Regions from separate parts of the Homo sapiens genome. Here region 1 is linked to region 2. The links come from fine-mapping of genetic effects on gene expression. A gene starts in region 2. The other region holds a variant in brackets. All regions are shown on one strand. Distances are between the middles of the regions.

What was found.
Region 1: its variant is fine-mapped to the expression of GYS1 in whole blood (INTERVAL, PIP above 0.99). The same link has a PIP of 0.9 or more in blood mononuclear cells.

Annotation. Positions count from the first base shown.
Region 1 is chr19:48,965,804-48,971,104 of GRCh38, forward strand. FTL (ferritin light chain) reads left to right here. Exons shown (of 4, transcript NM_000146.4): 2 at 1-113; 3 at 478-603; 4 at 780-1,076. The coding sequence ends at 932. It overlaps GYS1 (glycogen synthase 1), which reads right to left. Exons shown (of 16, transcript NM_002103.5): 13 at 5,125-5,220; 14 at 4,743-4,906; 15 at 3,972-4,052; 16 at 2,327-3,808. The coding sequence ends at 3,485. Among named protein-coding and RNA genes, the nearest start is that of FTL, 3.1 kb to the left of the region's middle. RefSeq lists enhancers at 2,526-2,755, 4,521-5,048 and a cis regulatory region at 5,025-5,301. The variant T/C (reference allele first, on the strand shown) is at 2,270.
Region 2 is chr19:48,990,761-48,996,112 of GRCh38, forward strand. It overlaps GYS1 (glycogen synthase 1), which reads right to left and starts at 2,549. Exons shown (of 16, transcript NM_002103.5): 1 at 2,235-2,549; 2 at 542-723. The coding sequence starts at 2,352. It overlaps RUVBL2 (RuvB like AAA ATPase 2), which reads left to right and starts at 3,127. Exons shown (of 15, transcript NM_006666.3): 1 at 3,127-3,163. The coding sequence starts at 3,152. RefSeq lists enhancers at 2,106-2,245, 2,936-3,025 and a silencer at 2,456-2,815.

The DNA of each region.
Region 1 (5,301 bases), 25 kb before region 2:
AAGGCGTGAGCCACTTCTTCCGCGAATTGGCCGAGGAGAAGCGCGAGGGCTACGAGCGTCTCCTGAAGATGCAAAACCAGCGTGGCGGCCGCGCTCTCTTCCAGGACATCAAGGTAACTAGTGTGTGGGTAATGGACTACATCTCCCAGCAGGCCGTGCGCGCGAGGAGCCTTGATTTGAGGGCGTAGGTGTCGCGTGGGCTTCTGGGAGATTGAGTTCGGTCTTGTGAGCCCTCTTAACCGCTGGAAATAGAGGCGCACCTCGTGCAGTGCCCACAACACGCGGCAGTCCACACCGCTGCGTGGTCTTAGGGACGTATAGCTGTAAGAGCTAGGACAGGGTGCGGAGAGTGATAAATACAAGCTGTCACATGTCTTTGTGGCCTGGGCCTCTGACCCCCAACGACTCTTGGGAAATGTAGGTTTAGTTCTATGTGCCGAGTGTGTGTATTCTGAGCCATTTCTCCCTTCTATATAGAAGCCAGCTGAAGATGAGTGGGGTAAAACCCCAGACGCCATGAAAGCTGCCATGGCCCTGGAGAAAAAGCTGAACCAGGCCCTTTTGGATCTTCATGCCCTGGGTTCTGCCCGCACGGACCCCCATGTACGTACCCGCTGCATCCATGGCTACCCAACCATACCCCTCAAGCCTCTGCTCCCTTTGGGCAAATTTCCTTCAGAGCCTCATTTCACACCTGTCACATTTTAATCTGCAACTGGCTGCTCTCTCCCCCTCTTTTCCAGGGATTGGGTTTCTAATTTCTCCCTCTTCTCTCTCAGCTCTGTGACTTCCTGGAGACTCACTTCCTAGATGAGGAAGTGAAGCTTATCAAGAAGATGGGTGACCACCTGACCAACCTCCACAGGCTGGGTGGCCCGGAGGCTGGGCTGGGCGAGTATCTCTTCGAAAGGCTCACTCTCAAGCACGACTAAGAGCCTTCTGAGCCCAGCGACTTCTGAAGGGCCCCTTGCAAAGTAATAGGGCTTCTGCCTAAGCCTCTCCCTCCAGCCAATAGGCAGCTTTCTTAACTATCCTAACAAGCCTTGGACCAAATGGAAATAAAGCTTTTTGATGCAGCTGGTGGTTTTGTGTGTGGTGTGGAAGATGAGGTGGGATCTGTTCTCATAAAGCTTCTGGCTGGGTTGGGATGCCAGTGAAAGAGGAGTTGGCCCCATCTCCCATTTTCTTAACTGTCCTAAGACAAGAGGCTATCTGGGTAGTGTTGAACCTGAGGGTTCTCTGCTTGCCTGGCTGTTAACTGTCCCTCCCAGATGGTAGAGATAGACTCCAGGGAGTTGAATTAAGACCTAGGTTGGTATCTAGAAACAGATGTTAGGTCTCAGCCAGAAACAGCCCTATTTAACGAGTGATTATGGGGCCAGGTGGGTCGCTCACCTGATGTCAGGAGTTCGAGACCAGCCTGACCAACATGAAGAAACCCCGTCTCTACTAAAATACAAAATTAGCTGGGTGTGGTGGCTCATACCTGTAATCCCAGCTAGTCAGGAGGTTGAGGTAGGAGAATCGCTTGAATCTGGGAGGCGGAGGTTGCAGTGAGCTGAGATGGCGTCATTGCACTCCAGCCTGGGCAAAAAGAGTGGAACTCCCATCTCAAACAAAAAACATGTCTGCCTCACGGAAGTTGCGGTGAGCTGAGATGGCGCCACTGTGCTCCAGCTTGGGCAACAGAGTAAGACTCTGTCTCAAAAAAGAAAAAAGCCTCAATTCTGGGAGGCAGTTGGAATTATTAGGCCCTTTATATGGGCACATTGACGCTATTGCTATGCAACTTGCATGGCAACCGGGGGGCTCACTGAGGTCTTTGCTCCAGAGTTTAAGAGATTATGGCCCGAGCTTGAGTGATCCCAATGTGAGGCGCACACTGAGAGGAACTGGCCAGTGGAGCTGAGCAGCCAGGAACACGTGATGCCCAAGCAATGCTGGACAAGGGGTTTAGGGTTCATCACAGAAATGGGATGTGAAACCTTGGGCCGGATTCTCCAAATGGGAACTGAAGAAGCTTAAAACAGGCCTTAAAAAGCACTTGCTGTGTCCAAGCTGCAAAACTGCTGTGTCAGCTCTGACTCTTCCCCTTCTCCTTCCCCTGGGTCTGGGGCAGGGTGGTTCAAGCCTGTAATCCCAGCACTTTGGGAGGCCAAGGCAGGACGATCACTTGAGCCCAGGAGGTTGAGACCAGCCTAAGCAACATAGGGAGACCCCCCAAGTCTCTCTAGAATAAGAGGATGAGCTCAGACCAGGGAAGGGGTGG[T/C]ACTGGGGGGACGTCACAGCCAGGCCCACCAAGTGTCATGTCTGACCACACCTGGGATTCTTAAATATAGATGTATTTTTTTCATCTCATCTCCGGACACACTCCAATCACACCCCTCCTGCCCTCCCCTCTCAACTGCAAACCAAGCGGTGCAGACACAGCACAGCACACATGAGGGGCCCTCCCTTTCACCAAAGCTGAAGGCAGGGCACAGTTTGGGGATGGAAGAGCCTCGAGGTAAATGTGGGGGTTCTAGAACCCAGTGACCTCAGTTCTGGATCATGGGAAAGGGATCAGTATGCAGTAACGTGGTAAGGTTCCAGATCTAGAAGCCAGGACCTAGAACCTAGTGGTTTCACAGTGGGCAGAGCAGTTGGGAATAAGCCAGGTTAGGGGTGGGGGAAGACAGCCAGCTCTGTCCTCTGCAGGCGGATTCCCTGGAGGGAGATCTCAGATTTAGAAAGGAAGAGTAGGATCTGGTCCAGAAAGGGCCAGAAAGACAGGAAGGCATCTGGACTGAGACTGTGTGTCCTCCAGAAGGAATGAGCAGCCAAGTGGTTCTACCACCTCTTGCTTGGCCAAAGTGTAGGGGATGACAGGAGCCGGATGGAGGGATCCTCCAGGCAGAGCCTGGCTCTGACATGCCAGGGAGGGCTAGAACATCCCTCCCAGAGCCCCACTTCTGGAGTTGAAATGGAGGACCATCTGCTCTCAGTTACCTTCAAACTCTGAAAGTGCCCCGGCTCTGGACTTGATCGCCCCATTCGCAGGGACACCACGTGGTTTCCAGAACTTGGTGGCCCGCATGCCGGGCCTGAGCGTGGCCTGCTCTGTATGCTGTAGAATTTGTAAGCCACACGGGGGGCTCTAAAAGCCCCAGACCTGAAAGCACCATGCCAGGTTTCCTAAAACCTCTGGCACCACCGCAGAGTAATGGCAGATTCCTGGCCTCTGGGAAGCGGTCCAGGCCCAGGGGACTCCAGGGCGCTGATTATGCATATTCTGGAGCCAGAGAAAGGCACGGCTTTGTGGATTCTGGAGTGCAGGAACTTGGAAACTGGAGCTGGAGGGGGTGGAGTGTTTGGCGGACTGGGTGGGGGCACTGCGGGGCCACACCCAGTGCAGATCTGGAGCGGGGGTTTAGGAGCAGCACCCCTCTGCATCCTCTCTCTGGAGCAGAGAGGCAGGACAGGCGGGGAGTGTGGTGGGGCGGACTTAGTTACGCTCCTCGCCCAGGGAGCTGGTGGGGCTGAGGGGCTCGCTCGGGGTGCTGAGTGAGCTGGAGGTGGCCGTGTCCACAGAGTTGCGCTTGCTGCCGCTGGTGGAGGAGGTGCAGGACGCTCGGCGCGGCCACTCTGGTGCACGGATGTTGCGCCGGTCCTTGGCGGCCTCCTCGTCCTCATCGTAGCGCTCGCCGTCTTCCTCCAGCGGCCCGTTCCGGGGATCCTCCTCGTCCTCACTCTGGTGCGGGCTGGAGTGTCGTGACAGCGAGGGCGACGGTGGCACCGAGGCTGGCCGTGGGTAGCGGTACCCCTGGGCCTGCATACGGCGATGTGGGTGCAAACCAGGGTGAGCTGAGGACCTCACAGTCCCACCCAGGCATCCAGCCACCTCTAGGCCTTCCCACTCCAGGAGGGACCCCCACCCCACCGAAGCCCAGCCCTTTAGCTCCTGGCTAAGCAGAAATCCAGGGTCCACTCACCGCATCCGCCTCGTTGGGCTCGTAGGTGAAGTGCTCTGGAAAGGCCTTGGACAGCGCCATGTGGCGCGCAGACATATAGTACTAGGGGAAAGGAGGAGAGGGGGCAGAGGATGTGAGAGCCAGGCCCCACCCCCAGGCAGATGATGGGGGTCTTGGCCACACCCTTTATGCAGATGAGCACACTGCTGCACCCCATACAAATAATCCATCTATCTGACTCCACCCCTTATGTAGATAAGCAGACCTGTGAATGGACAGTTTCTGAGCCATACCCCTCAAACAGGGGCCGAATTCTCAAGTGAGTCTCCTCTTTGGCCACACCCTTATGCAAATGAGAACGCCTGACCAATGTTCTTTTTTTCTTTTTAAACACGGTCTTGTTCTGTTACTCTAGGATGGAGTGCAGTGGGTTTGAACAAGGCTCACTGCAGCCTCAACCTCCGGGGCTCAAGCGACCCTACCACCTCAGCCTCCCCAGTAGCTGGGACTACAGGCACGCACCATCACGCTCGGCTGATTTTTTTTTATTTTTAGTAAAAATAAAATGTTGCCCAGGCTGGTCTCTTAACTCCTGAGCTCATGCGATCCTTCCTGTTAGGCCTCCCAAAGTGCTGGGATTACAACCATGAGCCACCATCGCGATCGGCCTGGTTCATTGCTTAAAGGGACAGCAACTGTTACAAGTAGGATGAGACCCTGCACCCTGCACCAAAGACCCCTAGCCAGGAGCTGCTGATTTGCCAGGAGAGGATAGGAAAGTGGGGGTCCTACCCGGCCTAGGTATTTCCAGTCCAGAAGGTCGGAGAGGCGCTCCGTGCGGTTCCGCTGGATGATACGCTGCCGCCGGCTCTGCTGACAGAAACTGTAGAGGAAGGAGGTGAGCTGCGAGCAGGAATCATCCAGGCTGCGGAACCGCCGGTCAAGAATGTAGATACCTGTGGAGGCCAGGACCCAGGTTCAGAAAACATCCTGGGGAGATCTTCATGGTCTCCAGGACTCTGTGGCACCAGGACCCCTCCTCTCCCAGCGGCCCGAGAGCCCCCCCATTTCCTGGTGCCCCTGGTCTCCAAGGGTGCAAGCTCCTCCTTCCCAGGATCCAGGAGTCACTGTTCTCAAGCCCCCTTCCAGAATCCTCAGGGGCCTGGGCGCTGACCGTAAGCTGAGGGGTCTGCGATGTGTTCCTCCATGAAGCAGCCGAAGCCGGAGAGATTGGTGGAGATACTGGGGATTCCCATAACCGTGCACTCAGCTGCGGGAAGGCAGGAGAGAGACCCACTTAGCTTCCCTCATCGCCTACCGTCTTAATCGCAATAGACGCCTCAACACCGCC
Region 2 (5,352 bases):
ACCTCAGGCCCACTTCTCCCCAGCTCTGCCTGGCTGGCTGGCATTCTTTTCTGAGACAGAGTCTCGCTCCGTCGCCCAGGCTGGAGTGCAGTGGCCCAATCGCAGCTCACTGCAACCTCCGCCTCCCGGGTTCAAGCGATTCTCCTGCCTCAGCCTCCCGAGTAGCTGGGATTACAGGCACCCGCCACCACACCCAGCTAATTTTTGTATTTTTGGTAGAGACGGGGTTTCGCCATGTTGACCAGGCTGTCTTTCGATCTTGCTCTCTTTCTCTCTGGGTCTGAGGACCTTGGCCTCTTGGATCTCCGTCTCAGTCTGTCTCATACTTGCCATCTGTCTGTCCATTCGCCCATGTCTGGGATCCACCCACCCACTTCCAGGCCCTGCATCTGTCTGGGTGTCCTATCACGCCTCCTTCCTGTGTCCAAGCCTGCCTCGCTCTCTGGCTGGGGCTGTCCACCCTGCACCCTCTCCGTCTGTGGCTCCCACCCCGATGGCAGGCTGTCCACCCGCTTCTGCCCTGGGCTGGGCCACGTCCCACCTTGCAGCCCTTGCTGTTCATGGAATCCAGTGTCCTCTTCAGGGCCGGGGTGGGGGCCTCCAGCAGTTCCACCTGGGTCCTCACGCCCTGCTCCGTGTACGGCCCCACCAGGAAGTAGTTGTCGCCCCATTCGTCCCCTGTCACCTTCGCCTTCGTCTGCAGCACCGTGTAGATGCCACCCACTGTGGGCCCAAGCGTGTGAGGGCAGGCCCCGGCCGAGGTCCATAGTTCTGGGGCCTGGGGTGGGGTGGGCCGGGGATGTAGGGGGCACTCAGGCCCCAGACCTCTAGCTCAGGGGGAAGAGGGGACTGGGAGCCCATAGTTTGGAGTAGGGGTTGGAAGCTTGGATGAGGGGAACACGAGGGCTGGAGGGCAGTCCTCCTGGGTCTAAGGGAGAAGGGGGCTGGGGTCAGGACCCTGAAGGAGGAGGGGGCTCAGGCTAGACTTCTGGGTCTGAGAGAGAAGGGGCTGGGTGCCGGGACCCCTTGGTCTGAAGGAATTAGGCACTGGGGCTCTAAGGATGGCAGAGCTGAGGACTGACTACCCGGACTCAGGTTCCCGAGTTCCCAGCTCACAGGAGCTGGGTTTAAATCGCAGCCAGGCTCCAAAACCCAGTGAGGGAGACCCCCTCATGGCCAATCCAGCTTCTCACCATTGCCCAAGAGAAGCCTGCATGGTCATTCCCTGCCCCCAGGGACCTTGCTGACCTGCCTCCCAATTTCCTCTCCCTGACTAGGGACACCAGCATGCAGGGCTCTGCCTCTCCCATGACCCTATCCCAGACCCAGGAGCCCCAGCCCCCAGCCTCCTCCCATCCTGGAGCCCAGGCCCTGGCGATACCCGGCTGGGTGTTCACGGGCCCCCTCTCCTCCTGGGAGACACAGTCCCTTTCTCCTCCAAGACCCAGCAAAGCAACCCCCCAGACCCTGCTCTTTGAGGTGTGAGATTGGCTTGTTCCTGGGGATTTCAGCCCCAGCCTTCTCCAAGGCCAGAACCTCAGCTTTCTGAAGCCCAAGACACAGAAATGCAGGCTCCTAGCCCCTCCCATCCTAGGGCCCAGCCTCTGACTAACTTAGGACTTCCCAGCCTTCCCCTATTCCAGTACGCATGTGTCCCAGGCCATGGGCTCCTCTACTCCTAGGAACTAATAGCTCAGGCCCTCAGCTCCTTCAAAGCCCAGGCATTCATTACAGTCTCCAGCCCGTCCCATCTTTATTCTTAAGCAGCCAGATCCTCAGGTCCTCCCACCGCCGCTCAGGCCTCCTATCTCCCAGTCAGCTCTCTCTCAAATCTGGAGTTTTATCCCCTAGACCATGCTGTTAGGGTCATAGGTCTGAAACCCCGGCAGCTTCCCAGGTTTGCACGCAGAAATCCCATCCCCCCATCCCCTTCCCTGTTCAGGACCCAGGTATCTAGTCTCTCGGAAGCCTGCCTCCAGGACCTAGGAGTCTCATTTTAGCGCCCTCTTCCCTAGGACCCAGAACCCGGGCTTCCAGCCTCCTTTCATCTTAAGTCAAACGAACCATCCCTCTCCCACCCACCTCCGGCTTCCCAGCCCCTCCTCAAGGACACAGCCTCCTTGCCCAGGTCACAAGGGTTCCCCTAGTAGCCCCGTCCTCCTACAACTCAGAGTTCCGGGCCCCCATCCACTACTGTCCTTCTCGTCAAGGGCCCCGACGCCTGGCGTGCTCACCCTTGTTAGCCACCTCCCAGGCCACTTCGAAGAGCACTGCGTTCTCCAGGTCGAATTCATCCTCCCAGTCCTCCAGTCCTGGCAGTGAGGACATGGACAAAGTGCGGTTTAAAGGCATGGCTGGCGCAGGAAGGGGGGCTCCGGGGATCTCCAGGTAGGGACCCCGGAGGTGTCTAGGGAATGCACCAGGTAGGGTGCGGGGCCGAGTAGCTGGTGCCCGACGGGAAGCTTGCAAGACGCTCGGCTTCCTATTGCAAGACCGCACCCCTGCCCCGAAGCGTTGGGACCTAGGCAGAAGGAGGCCGCAGCGTCACTGAGCCCACTGGCGCCCCTGCAGTGAAACCTCGCAGCCGCCAGGAGGCGGTGGCCGCCCCCCCCAGCCAGCGCCATTGGCCCACGCCCGGGGGCGGGGATTTCCGCGTGTCCTCATTGGTGGAACGGGTTGGAGTCGCTGTGTCCCGGCCCCGCCTCGGCCGTGAGACCTCCAGGGGGCGGAGCTTGCCGCTGCGCTTTACGGAAACGAGTGGCCTTCAGCTCTGTCAATCTGGAGCTGGAGGCCTCAAAGTGGGGAGGAGGAGGAGGGTGGGATAAAGAGGAAAGGAGCGTGGAGGACGTGTGGTTACTCAAAGAACAGCTAAGAATTTTGCAATCGGCCTGAGCGGGGCGGTGGTGGGGCTGAGCAAAAGGAGGAGGAGCCAGGAGACATTGGGAATGGACCCAGGAGTTCCGGACGCCCGTCTTCCAGCGCAGCCTCGGTGGGAGGGCGGGGCATAAAGTCCCGCCACGCCCCCACAATATTTACATATTTATGAGGAACCATCGAGATCTTTGAAGAACCAGCTAGCCTAGAGGAGCCAGAACATCTCGCTCCTCGCGCGTTTCCGTTTCCGCTAGGACTCTGGCAGTTGGTGAGCATCATGGCAACCGTTGTAAGTGTGGGTGCATGGAGGGTGAGGAGCGAGCTAGCAGTCTCGAGTTTGAGAGAGGAGGATGCTGGAGGCCCTGACTCCTGGGTCTGAGGGAGGGGGGATCTGGGGGTTCAGACTCCTGGGTCTGAAAGAGGAGGAAGCTCGGCCACCCAGATCTGGGGGAGAAGGGGACATGGGGGCTGGACTTCTGGATCTGAGGCGGGGAGGGGGCTGGGATCCCAGAATCTCGGGTCTGGCCCCATCATGCTATAGGAACTCCAACTTTCAAAATCATCTTGGCGCAACGGCCGGTTCCGCAGTCCTTGGCGCCAGTGTGTGATGAGGAGGGTTGTAGGACCTTGCGCTTCGAGCCATTTGGGAGCCTTGGATTGTTAGTGGTGCCAATGGCACTTGAGTTCCAAGCTGGAAGCACAGGCAGGTACCTGTTCAGTGTGTCTGAGAGCGCGAGGGCGCCTAGTGAGCCTTTAGTGGGAAGAAATTGTCGAGGAACAAGAGAGTCTTAGTGGAGAGGACTGAAGGATTAGGGACCCAGAAATCGGGATCTTGTCATGCTACCGTTTTGGCCATTTTCATATTTCCAGTATTTCACACGGGCTACGTCTCAGTGTAAATGCTCAATAAATTATCACTTGAATATTTGAATGAATGAATACATGTGAATGAAGGAGAGGCCAGGAAACTTGGCCTGGCACCTGCTCAATTACCTGAATAAAGAAGCGATTTTGGCCTGGCGTGGTGGCTCATGCCTGTAATCCCAGCACTTTGGGAGGCCGAGGCGGGCGGATCACTTCAGGTCAGGAGTTCGTGGCCAACATTGCGAAACCCCGTCTCTATTAAAAATACAAAAATTAGCCAGGTGTGGTGGTGCAGGCCTGTAATCCCAGCTACTCAGAAGGCTGAGGCAGGAGAATCGCTTGAACCTGGGAGGCAGAAGTTGCAGTGAGCCAAGATCGCGCCACTGCATTCCAGCCTGGGCGACAAAGCGAGACTCTGTCTCCAAAAAAAAAAAGGTAATGTGACCTGAACTTAGGGACTGGGCTGGGCTTACAGGTGCCTCAATTTCCATGATGAGCCCAGTCAAGATGGAGGAAGGGAGGGGGAGAAAGTTGTTGGTAGCTGGGGATGAGATTTGAGTCTGTTGCTGTCACCAGGGCAAGGAGGAGGAGGAGGTGGATAGGGAAGTAGAAGAGGAAGGCTATGACCAGAACTACCGTGGAGAAAGTATTGGAAGTATGAGGGGACGGTGTGTGCTGAGTTTTGAAATGACCTTGGTTTTCATGGGAACAGCGGGCAGCAAGGTTTTGGAGAGACTTATGATGAAAGAGAAAGTCTTTATAGGAGACAGTCCTTGGTAAGGGGCCTGTTTATGTTGAGAGAGCTACATTTGGGATTCCTGGATTCATGTCTTTTTTGTGGGGTGGGGATGCCTAGTCTTCTGCTTGTAGTCTGGGGGTAATGTTCTATGCTCCTGGGTTCCAGCTTCCTATAGGAGACGGTAGGTGGGAAGGTTCACACAGTGACAGGGAAAGCTTGTGACCATTGATGGCCAGAAAGTCTAAACGATTGGCTCCAGAGGGAGGAGGCTTCCTCTGGGCTGGATAACTGCATGTCCTCTCTAGGGGAAGAAGAGAAGAAAGACCTGTGGGCTGGGCACAGTGGCTCACGCCTGTAATCCCACACTTTGGGAGTCCGAGGTAGAAGGATTGCTTGAGCCCAGGAATTTAAGACTAGCCCTGGCAACATAGCGAAACCCTGTCTCTACAAAAAAATAAGAAAATTAGGCCGGGTGCGGTGGCTCACACCTGTAATCCCAGCACTTTGGGGGGTCGAGGCGGGCAGGTCATGAGGTCAGGAGTTTGAGAGCAGCCTGGCTAATATGGTGAAACCCCGTCTTTATTAAAAATACAAAAAAAATTAGCCGGGCGTGGTGGCACATGCCTGTAGTCCCAACTACTCTGGAGGCTGAGGCAGGAGAATTGCTTGAACCCGGGAGGCGAAGGTTGCAGTGAGCCGAGATCGCGCCACTGCACTCCAGCCTGGGTGACAGAGTAAGGCTGTGTCTCAAAAAAAAAAAAAAAAGAAAAGAAAAGAGAAGAAAATTAGCCAAGTGTGGTGGGACACACCTGTAGTCCCAACTACTTGGGAGACTAAGGTGGGAGGATTGCTTGAGCCTGGGAGGTGGAGGCCAC